4 separate regions of the Homo sapiens genome follow, and all the other regions are reported to be linked to region 2. Evidence: microRNA targets listed by miRTarBase, many of them from high-throughput screens and not tested one by one. Region 2 holds a microRNA gene; each other region holds the end of a gene's coding sequence.
What was found. Region 2 holds the annotated microRNA hsa-miR-564 (AGGCACGGUGUCAGCAGGC, at 885-903, shown strand). A microRNA usually pairs through its seed, bases 2 to 8, with sites in the 3' UTR of a target mRNA and lowers its output. Matches are read on the target gene's strand: a 7mer-m8 pairs with bases 2 to 8, a 7mer-A1 pairs with bases 2 to 7 and ends in A, and an 8mer does both.

Region 1: miRTarBase lists RCAN3 as a target of hsa-miR-564. The part of its 3' UTR that is shown has no 7-base or 8-base seed match.
Region 3: the mRNA of MGAT4A is a reported target of hsa-miR-564. Seed matches in the 3' UTR shown: 7mer-m8 at 3,063-3,069.
Region 4: miRTarBase lists TMED4 as a target of hsa-miR-564. The part of its 3' UTR that is shown has no 7-base or 8-base seed match.

Annotation. Positions count from the first base shown.
Region 1 is chr1:24,534,607-24,537,717 of GRCh38, forward strand. RCAN3 (RCAN family member 3) reads left to right here. Exons shown (of 5, transcript NM_013441.4): 5 at 487-3,111. The coding sequence ends at 671. Among named protein-coding and RNA genes, the nearest start is that of NCMAP-DT, 20 kb to the right of the region's middle. RefSeq lists enhancers at 1-74, 691-750, 725-1,376, 1,377-2,026, 1,853-1,942.
Region 2 is chr3:44,861,019-44,864,129 of GRCh38, forward strand. It overlaps MIR564 (microRNA 564), which reads left to right and starts at 870; the gene lies at 870-963. TMEM42 (transmembrane protein 42) reads left to right here and starts at 894. Exons shown (of 3, transcript NM_144638.3): 1 at 894-1,098. The coding sequence starts at 907. It also overlaps a transcript of KIF15 not described here. RefSeq lists an enhancer at 354-943 and silencers at 974-1,023, 1,354-1,403.
Region 3 is chr2:98,623,084-98,626,194 of GRCh38, reverse strand. It overlaps MGAT4A (alpha-1,3-mannosyl-glycoprotein 4-beta-N-acetylglucosaminyltransferase A), which reads left to right. Exons shown (of 16, transcript NM_012214.3): 15 at 360-472; 16 at 603-3,111. The coding sequence ends at 629. Among named protein-coding and RNA genes, the nearest start is that of UNC50, 16 kb to the right of the region's middle.
Region 4 is chr7:44,576,816-44,579,926 of GRCh38, forward strand. It overlaps TMED4 (transmembrane p24 trafficking protein 4), which reads right to left. Exons shown (of 5, transcript NM_182547.4): 5 at 1,079-2,813. The coding sequence ends at 2,664. Among named protein-coding and RNA genes, the nearest start is that of TMED4, 3.9 kb to the right of the region's middle.

The sequences.
Region 1 (3,111 bases), not on the chromosome of region 2:
AAAAAAAAGAAAAAAAAAAACCATCTCGACTGAAAATACAAAAATTAGCTGGGCGTGGTGGCACACACCTGTAGTCCCAACTACTCGGGAGGCTAAGGCAGGAGAATCGCTTGAACCTGGGAGGCAGAAGTTGGAGTGAGCCGAGATCGTGCCACTGCACTCCAGCCTGCCGACAGAGCGAGACTCCATCTCAAATAAATAAATTAATTAATTAAACAGATTAACTCATATTATTCATAAAACAATAATTAGCATTTGCATTTTAACTCCCAAGACTTCAGTACTGAAACAACATTTTATACAAGCCTTAAAGTATCAAATCTTTAACACCAAAACAAGATAAAATACTCTAACATAGTATTTAAAGATTTAAAGAACAAGAATCACCCATTAAAATAGGAGTAGAACAAAAAGTTGCAAGGGACAAAAGAGTTCTTTTTGCTGGAAGTGATGCTTTTGTCATGGTTATTTTGTTTGCCTCTGCAGGAGAGAAATATGAACTTCACGCGGGAACAGAGTCGACACCCAGCGTGGTGGTTCATGTCTGTGAAAGTGAAACTGAAGAGGAAGAAGAGACAAAAAACCCCAAACAGAAAATTGCCCAGACGAGGCGCCCCGACCCTCCGACCGCAGCGTTGAATGAGCCCCAGACCTTTGATTGCGCGCTGTGAGGCCCTTGGTTGTGGTGCGAGGCGGCTGCCCTGGTGGGCTCTGGCCATGGCGCTCTGTGCCTGCGGCCGATGCGTTGCTGCGAACAGCATAGGTGAGACTCTGCCGAGTGAGGTATAGGTCTTCTCACCACGCCTGTACTGCAGACACGGTCGTGTAGAGTAGCAGCTGATTTGACCTGTCCCAGATTTTAAGTGATATTCCAAAAGGGACTTTACATTAAAGGAGAAGCCCCCAAGATGTGGCCACCCTTAACCATTTTTAAATAGTAACAAATTAGGAAAACAGCTCCCCTCCCCTCCAGCCATGTAAGTCCTCCTGATTCTGTATCACATGAGACACCAAAAACTGGAAATGTAGTCACACCCAGTACAGTACCATTTTTATGAATTTAAAAATAGTCTTATAATTTTAATTGTTTGTGGGTATTTTTCTACTGGTATAAATAGCTTCTAATTAATAAATCGATCAAAGGTTGTTACTCAGTATACATGAAATTTTTTGCAGGAAAAGAAACCAGAAATACAGAATAATTCATAGAAATCATGGTTCTCAAGTATTTGTTCAATTAGCTTTGGGGAAGAAATGCCAAATCCACTTTGAGGATGAGTCTTACGACACAGATCCACCCACATGTTGCTCTTATCTGGAATTTGGGACAAAGCAATGCACAGGCCCTCATTCCTGATGTGGCGCCCTCCAGACATGGCTGCCCAGGAAGGACGGCCACTTTAGAAGTGGGACGTATCACCAGTAAGCTTGAATGATTAGGATCGCAGGTGGCTACTGCATTCTGCCGTTCGTGACCGTGTTCTAGCCTGTAGACCACCCAGCTACCTTCATTCACCAGTTTTTATCCTTCACCTTTTCCAGTATCTTGTTAACCACTAGTTCTTGAGTTTTTTGGCTATGATGTGTACGTTTATGTATGTCATTCATGGACTTTCAACTAGAAAAGGTAATGATAAGGTTTTCTGAAGACCATTTGTAAATTGTCCATTTAACCATTTTTCAGCTTGCTTTGAAACAAAAGTCACACCTACTATTTTTCTATGAATTAGGGAATGAGGGGGAGATCATTCAGTTTTACTTTTCTTTTTGTTGAAATTTTGTACCCGGATTGCAGTTGGCACTTTTCCTAAAACAGAATTGTTTCCCACTTAGGTGTCAGAATGTACCTTTGAACTTCCCTAAGAAGCAGCAGGATCTTTTTAACTCTCTCTGGTCTGTTTAGACTTTGAAGTCCCTTCTGTAGAAAAGTCTCATAACTGAGAAGGCTCTGTTTTGGGCCGGGTGGGTCTGCTGGCCTCCACTCACTGTGCTGTTTCCTTTGAGTGGCACACTTGGGAAGCTCCGGGGCATGTGAAGGAGCTGCAAACATGAGAACTAATGAACCAAGGCGGCTGCCACCAGGAAGGAACAGAACGCAGGCATTCAACCATGACGTCTGCACAGTGTTAGTAACATGTCATTGTGGTTTCGTTCTCACTGTGGTAAAATTTATTTCTGAGCACTTAAACTGTGTTGCATACCCCTAATTTTTTTTTTTTCTGTATCTTCCTTGCCCTCAAATACCCTGAGGTGATAAACTGTTCCAGTTGTAGCCAACTACCACTGCTAGGCCTCAATGTAAATTCAGTTGAAATTTGCAATTCTATCAGCAATTTAATGTATTGAATTCAGATCATCATTTGTCATTTTAACCGACAACCACCCAATAAATTTACTCTGCAGTTCTGAACTCAGCATTGTGCCCATTTTTTACTGCAAGATGGACCCTGTATGCCAGGAGACATGTATTATCAACAATTGGGAATTTTTTGAATTTCCTTTTAGGTAATATTGATTCACTGTAATTTTCTAAGTGATCAAAACCCATGAGATTTTGTTATTTGGCTTGGCTTTCATTCTCTGCCTGCCCATTAAAGAATATTCTATTCCTAACACATAAAACATTTTACAGTCAAGCAGTGCAAATTACAGTGCTTTTCTATTTTTTTTTTGAGAGCCTTGAATAAATTGAAGAAAACTTTAAACCAAAATTAGAGACGAGTCATTTAAGCTTTTCTGAATGGAAAGTATTAATATTTTCATTTTTCTAGTATAATATAATAAAATGAATTTTTTTAAAAAAGCTACTAAGTACCCATCAACTTTTTCATATTGTGAAATGAACCAGGATCTTAACAGATACTATCATCGCTGTCCTTTTTTGGCTGTTTAATATCTAGTTCATGTAACAAATTTACAAGAGATAAGTCTCATGGTTTTTTTTTTCTTTTAATAGGCTTTTCTGCAATTTTTTTGAAATTGAGTTATTACTTGGATTTAACCCTGATAGGACCAGGTGTGGTGGCTCACACCATAATCCCAGCACTTTGGGAGGCCAAGGTGGGTGGATCCACCTGAGGTCAGGAGTTCAAGACCAGCCTGACCAACATG
Region 2 (3,111 bases):
TTCACTCTTGTTGGCCAGGCTGGAGTGCAATGGCATGATCTCAGCTCACCACAACCTTCACCTCCCAGGTTCAAGCGCTTCTCCTGCCTCGGCCTCCCGAGTAGCTGGGATTACAGGCATGCACCACCACGCCCGGCTAATTTTGTATTTTTAGTAGAGACGGGGTTTCTCTATGTTGGTCAGGCTGGTCTCGAACTCCCGACCTCAGGTGATCCACCCGCCTCGGCCTCCCAAAGTGCTGGGATTACAGGCATGAGCCACCACGCCCAGCCGGAAACATTCTAAACATACGTAAGTATAACAGGAGATTAGAAGTCATGTTGATTCTGCGTGGCTTGATTATGGATCATTGTCTTCCTCTCATCGCAGATCCTCATTTTTTCGGTTTTCTGTGATGCGCTTGTCCCCATATGGGGCTCTGGCGTCTTTCTGGGTCTGGAGGTCCCCAGCGCCCTCTGCCGAGGCATCTCTTGGTCCGGCGGTCCTCAGGCTGGAGGGTGGAGCGGAGAAGCCTGGTCGACGTGGATGGACTCGGTGGGCCGGCGCGGGGCCCGTTAGGCATCTTTAATAAGTTTCACCGGGAGCCGGGTGGCCGGGATGGAGACGGCTAAGCCGCGAGAAGTTTACCTTCTACCACAGCGTCCACAGTACCCGGCTTGGCCTCAGGCCTCGGGTCCCGACGTCCTCCCCAGAGCACAAACCTACTACAGGTTAGGCCGGAGGCCGCCACAGCCCAGGGTCTCTGCCACCTGGCCCGCCCCCTCCGAGGCGCCGGAGAGCGATTCCCAAGGGGCCTGCCGGAGCGTGGCGTCACAGGAGCGTCGCGTCACGTGAGGCTGCCATCCAATCGCGGCGCGCGCTCTGCCCTGCGGGCAGCGGGTGCCAGGCACGGTGTCAGCAGGCAACATGGCCGAGAGGCCGGGGCCTCCGGGCGGCGCCGTGTCCGCGACCGCGTACCCTGACACCCCCGCGGAATTCCCTCCGCACCTCCAGGCGGGTGCGATGCGGCGCCGCTTTTGGGGCGTATTCAACTGTCTGTGCGCCGGCGCGTTCGGGGCCCTGGCCGCCGCCTCCGCCAAGCTGGCCTTCGGCAGCGAGGTCGAGCCCGGGGCGCTGTTGGTGCTGCTGCTGCGGGCGGGCGGGCGGGGCGCCGCTGGGCGGAGGAGGGGCGCTGCGGGGCCCGCGGGGCTCTTGGGGTGGGGCGGGGGTGGGCGCAGGGCGCCGCCGCACCCTCGCCGGTCTGTCCCGCCGGGGCCCCGGGCCGCGGGCGGCGCTGCGGTCAGCTGGGGTGGCAGAGAGTGTTTCGCCTCTAATCACGCCAAACCCTCGTCCAGTGTAGGTGGTAAGAGACGTCGGGGACTGAGGCCTCTTCCCTTACCAGGGACCTAAAACCTTTTCTCCGGTTGGGCTAGTTCGCTCTCGGGGAAGAACTACACCTCCTACATCCACCCTCTACCTCTCATTTTAAGTCCCTTGTGCCTGAGCATTTCTCTCCACGTGACTCTTAAGGTGAGAAGCCTCTTGCCCATCCCTTTACTCCGTAATTAACGGGTGTTGTGACCAGATGACCAGTCTGCCCCACTACCAGGAAAATTGGGAGTTTGGGATACTGTAGGCATAAGAGGATACTGACAGAGACGTTCTGGATGTTTTCCTGACGCTGAGAACTCCTAAACTTGCATCCTGGCGTCTGCTAAGGTGTATCTCTGCCTCTCCCTCCCACGTCGTAGACCAGCCTCTGCTTGCTATAGGGGTTTCATTGCGTCTGCAGCCCAAGGTTAGCCTCTGACCTGGACAGTGGTCACTGATTATTTAGGGTTAAGCCTATTTAGGGCTAATCCAGTAGTAGCTGCCATGCTTCAGGTTAGTATCCCATTGGGTGTAGTTCATGGGGTAAGTGGTCGAAAGTAAAATGAATAACTTTGTATGGGCCGTGAAGTTTGTTGTCAGGAACTAGACCTTCATAACCCTTTAAGCAGGTTGCCACTGGCCCATATGCTGCTTTGTGTAAGACAAGGTTGTCCAACTCGCGGCCCAACGCAAATTTGCAAATTTAAAACATGAATTTTTTTGCGATTTATTATTTTTTTTTTAGCTCATCATATATCATTAGTGTTAGTGTATTATATGTGTGACCCAAGACAGTTCTTCCAGTGTGGCCCAGGGAAGCCAAAAAATTGAACACCCTGGTGTAAGTTATAAGCAAGCACCTTTTTCTCAAGACACTATGTGTTCAGCTGCTGAGAAACCATTACAAGTAATAAGTATATTTAGATTCCGCACCCCCCCCCCCCGCCGCCTTGTCTCCAGGCAGGTTTCTAACTCACCACCAAGCAAGGGGGACTGCATATCCTTTGTGTAGGAGGCTTCTAAAGATCTTCTCTTCTCTTGAGACTTTCTCCTTTAAAAAAAAAGAAAGAAAATACCTGCAAGTTCTCCAAGGGATGTCTGGGATCACTAAATAGTCTGAGGTGGTGTTTCCCTCAGGCAAGGCTGTGCCCTAGTTAAGAGCATGGAGGTACACTGCCTGCTTGTGAAGCCTGGTGGCTCTCACCGCTGTAGCACTTTAGGAAGGTTACTTAATGCCCCTGGCTCTTTATCTGTAAAATGAAGTTAAGGAATAAATGAGAATGCTTAAACACAGCCCAGGACCTAACACAGAGTAAAAGCTCAAGAATACCCAGAGGGGGTCAGCCTTAGTGGGCTGTAACTTGTATAGGATTTGGGGGTGGGAATACAGAGCAGACATTGCTAATTCATGCTTTGCCTGATCTCAAGAAATAAGAACTCTACCCTAGGCTTACTACCTACGGAGTAAGAACTACTTGGCCCTCTGGGACTGATCTTCAAGCACTGGTCATTGTGGGACCAATAAGGGGCCGGTGTTCAGTAGAAAATACTGGCTTTGGATTAGCATTTTGCTTCTTCCCAAGATCATATGGCCAGCAAGGTGGCCAAATGAGTATCTTCTCTGAATTTGCTTTATTTGTAAGATGGGTCTGCTGCCCACTGAGGGTTAAGTGAAGCCCTGTGCAGGAAAGCTCTGAGGCCCTCTGAGCTGTAGTGGGAGCTCAGTAGGAGCCTGGGTGCCAGCAACCACAGTCCTGGGTG
Region 3 (3,111 bases), not on the chromosome of region 2:
CTGCGTGATGGTACAGATTATATTTTGGTAAGATTTAGGTAAATCACAATTTACAAAAAACCTATAGTTTAAAACATGGTTGATATAAGAACAAATATATTTTTGTTTTTTAATTTGTAGTGAGAAAAATTATAGCTCTGCCTAATTAAGTAAATTGTGAAGTTTTTAAATATGCACTTCTTCATGAAAAATATAAAAGCTGAATGAAAGTAGAAAGAAGGGGGAAAGAAATTACCTGTGCCCTGTCAAAAGACATCTACTAGAAATATTTTGGTGTATTCCTTTCCTGCCTTAACTCAGTGATATTTTATGTTTGCTTATCTCGGTGTATCCAACAAGTATTGATTTTTATTTTGAAGGAAAATTTGAGAATGGTGTTGCAGAAGGAATGGTGGATCCAAGTCTCAATCCCATTTCAGCCTTTCGACTTTCAGTTATTCAGAATTCTGCTGTTTGGGCCATTCTTAATGAGGTAAGCATATATCAAATCAGTGAAACAACTTAGAAACTACATTTTTATTATGTTTTTATTTTGTATTTAAGGCCTTTTTGGAATTGAGAATTAACAGCTTTATCATACCTTTTATGATTTTGTATTTCAGATTCATATTAAAAAAGCCACCAACTGATCATCTGAGAAACCAACACATTTTTTCCTGTGAATTTGTTAATTAAAGATAGTTAAGCATGTATCTTTTTTTTATTTCTACTTGAACACTACCTCTTGTGAAGTCTACTGTAGATAAGACGATTGTCATTTCCACTTGGAAAGTGAATCTCCCATAATAATTGTATTTGTTTGAAACTAAGCTGTCCTCAGATTTTAACTTGACTCAAACATTTTTCAATTATGACAGCCTGTTAATATGACTTGTACTATTTTGGTATTATACTAATACATAAGAGTTGTACATATTGTTACATTCTTTAAATTTGAGAAAAACTAATGTTACATACATTTTATGAAGGGGGTACTTTTGAGGTTCACTTATTTTACTATTATAGACCCTCTTTTATAGATTATCAGGGATTATATATATAAATATATAAATATACATAAAAATGTTATGGAATTAATTTATTAGAAACACTTAAGAAGTACATATTTTTGTGCAGTAGATTTTTGAATCGATACTTTTTTTGAAAACCAGTTTCCTTGCTTTTTTAAGTTCTTTCTATATTTTTCTTTGGAAATGCAAACATTACAAACCAATGCCATTTTTCAAATGCACTGCCATTTAAGATTGATTATAGATGGATTTCTTAATTGAAGTACTTTTATAATCACAGTGACTGAACAAAATATTTTCAAAGACATTTGTCATTCCTTAAAGCCAAGATTTTAAAGACTAATGTCCTTCCTGAGGGTTACTTTACTATACTGTGTATGGTGTATAGCCACAGAAAGTCAGTCTGATAAATTTTCAATGTGTAAGTGTGATGCATTCAACCCAGATTATTGTAGACTTAACTTATTATATTTCCTCTGATATGTAAAATGACAAACTCTTCTTTCCTTTTTAATCTTTGTCTTTAATCCATGAATTAGGTGCATTATCTGCTGTTGATTCTTTTATATCTGCACTCATTTTATGACGTCAGACAAAATGTTTTCTAGGTGTTGCTATTGTATGAGTCATAATTGGTATAATTTTAAAGAAAATTGTAATATTGTTTTTTGGTGAAATATATTATTAGTAGTATATTTTCCAAAATGATTTTATTGTAGTATGAACTGATAAGTGAGTCCCGTGTCCAAGAGACTGTATTTATTACTCTTAAACACGCTATTCCAAATGATATTACTACTATAAACAAAGAATATTACCGGTCTCAGCAATCAGTGATCTTTATAAAAGTACTTTTAAAAAATGATGAATTATCACCAGGCGCTGTGGCTCACGCCTGTAATCCCAGCACTTTGGGAGGCCGAGGCGGGCGGATCACGAGGTCAGGAGATCAAGACCATCCTGGCTAACACGGTGAAACCCTGTCTCTACTAAAAATACAAAAAATTAGCCAGGCGTGGTGGCAGGTGCCTGTAATCCCAGCTACTTGGGAGGCTGAGGCAGGAGAATGGCGTGAACCCAGGAGGCAGAGCTGGCAGTGAGCTGAGATCGCACCACTGCACTCCAGCCTGGGCGACACAGCTAGACTCCGTCTCAAAAAAAAAAAAAGATGAAGTATCAACATCAGTTCCCAGCCAGTCTGCTTGGACACACTGGGGTGCCACAAGTGGGTTGCAGGTTGGTTGCAGACGGGCAGAGATGGATTCTGCTGAGCTTTCAGAGTGACCACTGGCTGGGGCCTAGCGCTGGGGCAAGGTTCCAGCTGGCTGCCTCTAGCCTGGAGGAGCTTCATCTAGTTACCCAATGTGCTGAACCAACAGCATGAAATAGCATCATTTCCTGTGCTGTGTTACAAAGTGCAAACGTTTGGAAACACTGATACAGTACAATTATTTCCATCACTCCATGTTGTTATAATTTTTAGTTACTTTTCTTGATTGAAAAGTCAATCACATTGCCAAAAATGATTTTTATGTCAGTTAAAGGCCAGTTGAAATTTTTTTATTAGGATGTTTTAAATTTACTTTTCACTTTCTTGAATTTTTTTCTTCTCAAATTTCCTTGGCCCAGTGCCCATGAGCAAATTTCATTCAAAAACAGGAATAACCTTTTGTCATAAAATTTTGGCACCAGCTTGGTATACTAAATTACTGCAAAGATAACTGAGTACCAGAAGTAAAAATCTCTGCAGGTGGGCTTAGGAGTACTCTTGGGTCCCTGGTTCCTCAGTTGCCAACTCTGGTTTCATGAAGAAAGACCATGCTCTGAAAATCTAGGGAGGAGAAAGTTATTGCAGCACCTGGTGTGATTTGTTACAACTTCTTTAAAGACAGCCTGCCTGGCTAGCTTTTTCCTGTTTTCATGCAGTTTGCCCTCCCAGCATTGGTCCACCTGTTGTTCCCAAGAAACTCATTCTTGTTCCCAAGACTCCTTTTAGCCAAATCTTTCCTATCATTCCAGGACTTTTTTGTGCTTCTCTCCCCATGAATCTACCCGTGCCTAGGGTGTGTGCCAGGCACGTGGCAGGTGGCCAGTCAGCATC
Region 4 (3,111 bases), not on the chromosome of region 2:
CAAAGTGCTGGGATTATAGGCGTGAGCCACCCCACCTGGCCCTAAATTGCATTTTTTTTTTTGTTTTTTTTTTTCAGATGGGATCACTGTTGCCCAGACTGGAGTGCAGTGGCACGATCATGGCTCACCGCAGCCTTGACCTCCCGGGCTCAAGTGATCTTTCCACCTCAGCCTCTCAAGTAGCTGGGACTATAGGCATGTGCCACCAGCTAAATTTTTTGTATTTTTTGCAGAGACAAGATTTCGCCATGTTGCCCAGGCTGGTCTCGAACTCCTGGGCTATAGGGATCCACCCACCTTGGCTTCCCAAAGTGCTAGGATTACAGGCGTGAGCCACCGTGCCCAGCCCACATGTATTTTTAAGAGTAAAAATAGCCAGGCACAGTGGAGTATACCTGTAGTACCAGCTACTTGGGAGGGTAAGGTAGGAGGATCACTTGAACCTGGGAGCTCAAGGTTGCTTTGAGCTGTGATGGCACCACTGCACTCCAGCCTTGGGGACAGAGCAAGACCCCATCACCTGTGCCCGGCCAGCTCACACCTGTAATCCCAGCACTTTGGGAGGCGAGACGGGTCACCTGCGGTCAGGAATTCAAGACCAGCCTGGTCAACATGGTGAAACCCTGTCTCTACTAAAAATACAAAAATTAGCTGGGCATGGTGGCGGGCGCCTATAATCCCAGCTACTCGGGAGTCTGAGGCAGGAGAATCTCTTGAACTCAGGAGGTGGAGGTTGCAGTGAGCCAAGATTGCACCACTGCACTCCAGCCTGGGCGACAGAGTGAGACTCCATCTCAAAAATAAATAAATGAATAAGATAAAATAAAAATACAAAAATTAGCCGGGTGTAGTGGTGGGTGTCTGTAATCCCAGCTACTCAGAAGTTGAGGCAGAACTGCTTGAACCCGGGAGGCAGAGGTTGCAGTGAGCCAAGATCATGCCACTGCACTCCAGCCTGGGCGACAGAGCAAGACTGTCTCAAAAAATAAAATAAATAAAAATTTTAAAAATACATAAATATATATATAAATAGGTACATATATGGTATAGGACATAAGAAATAACAAAAGGAGAAGAATTTAGTTCTGTAGGTCAGATAATTTAATAAATATTTCAAATAAATATATAATAAAAACTGAAATAAAATGTCAAGAATGGGGAACTAATGGTATTAAGTTTTATATAGAAGGGCATGAGGGAAGTGTATTAAAATTTGTTCAAATTTATGACTGAGAGGGCTAAGAAGGTACTTAATTTCCTCAGATGATACTTTGCGAACATGTGGTCTATTTGGTTGACCTTTGCAAATAGTTGAACAACCACACCGTGTATTCCCATACCCCCTAGACTGCCTGTCCAGGCCAAGCCTTAGTACCACGAGTCCACAGTGAAGTCCACTCCAGGTTATCTGCATAGGTAGCCCAGGCACCTTTCCTCTTTTCCTTTAGGTGCCTCCCCTCTACCCACAACCTCTTATTTCATCTCAAACACAGCTATTACAACATGTTTTATTTCACTGGAAAATTCTGTAAAGAACTAAATCTGGTTCCCTTGAAGAAAACATTTAGCACAGCTTAAATAAAAGTTGAGAAGGAGGGTAAGAGTGCATTGCCCCATTCTAGCTCTGTTGCTACCTTACCTCTGACTCTAAGGCCCTGTGGGATGAAAAGCAGGTATCCAAAAGAACTCTGCTTGGCCCTCTGATACGGCCTTGAGGTCAGCCCTGGTGCCTGCTTTCTGGCCCACAGACCGCTGAAATCCTAGGAGCTGCCATGGGAGTTACCAAAAATATGTGAATAAACTGAATGCAGAGGCTGAGGCAGGTGGATCAACTGAGGTCAGGAGTCTAAGACCAGCCTGGCCAACATGGTAAAACCCCATCTCTACTAAAAATACAAAAATTAGCTGAGCGTGGTGGCGGGCACCTGTAATCCCAGCTACTCAGGAGACTGAGGCAGGAGAATCATTTGAACCCGGGAGGCAGATGTTGCCAGTGAGCTGAGATCACGCCATTGCACTCCAGCCTGGGCGACAAGAGCAAAACTCAAAAAAAAAAAAAAAAAAAAAAAAGGAAAAACAAAACCCAGAATGCAGAAACTGCATTGGTATTTTGAGCTAGTTACAGGCAGTAACACTTCTACTAGGAAGGAAAATATATAATTTATCCAAAAATAGTTCTAAGATTTAGAAAAACATCTCAATCCTCTAGGGCCAAGACCTGCCCCTTATTTACATTCACAAAGCCATTAAGTGAACCCAGAACTGACCAGCAGACAGTGAGGCAGGGCCTGCTCTGTGGCACATGCCAGTCACCTACTGCGTAAGTGGACAAAGAGAAAGCAGAAGGTAATGGAGAGAGTTTTCATTTGCTTATTTAGTGAAAAACAGAGGAAAATCACTCGAGGCAAAAGAAGCAGGACTGAGTCCTGGGTTAGTTCTGATTCCTCACAAGCCCTAAGACAAGATTTTGAAAGATTGGACTAATGTCATGTGTCCTTAAGAACCAGGGTCAGCAAGTGGCTGATCTGAATGGTTTGTGGCCATGGAACCAATGTGACTTATTCTTTTTCATTTTTTTCCCTAAAAATCCAGGTGGATAAAGGACTGTGTGGGGAAAGTACCAAATAAATGAGGTAAAAAGGAAGGGTCATACAAAGAGGGCACTACACCAGCTTCTTGGCCTCAAAGAAGCTCTTGAGGTGACGCATCTGCCAGATGCCAGTGAGGATGAGGATGACAGTCTGAGCAATGGACCACCATAGGACCCTCTGGTTGGTGCTCTCGCTCGTCAGTCGGAAGCGCTCTTCACGATACTGTGTGGGGCAACACAGGGTTAAGTGAGCAGGAGAAACAGTCTGGCTGTTGTGAGGTCCCTCCCTGCGTGTAATTACTCAACTCCAGGACCAAACTCCTTTTGGAATACTATCTGTGACTCCATTAGGAGTGCTATGGTCTCCCCACTGAGGCTGCCCCAAGAAAGGGACAGGCTGTCCCTCCACAAGCATCTCTGTTAGGACTGAAATCATGATCCTACCATTTCCAACAAGAGTCCAAGAAAAACAGGTAGGCAATGGCTATTACTAGATTGTGAACTGTCCTTTCTTCATTTTA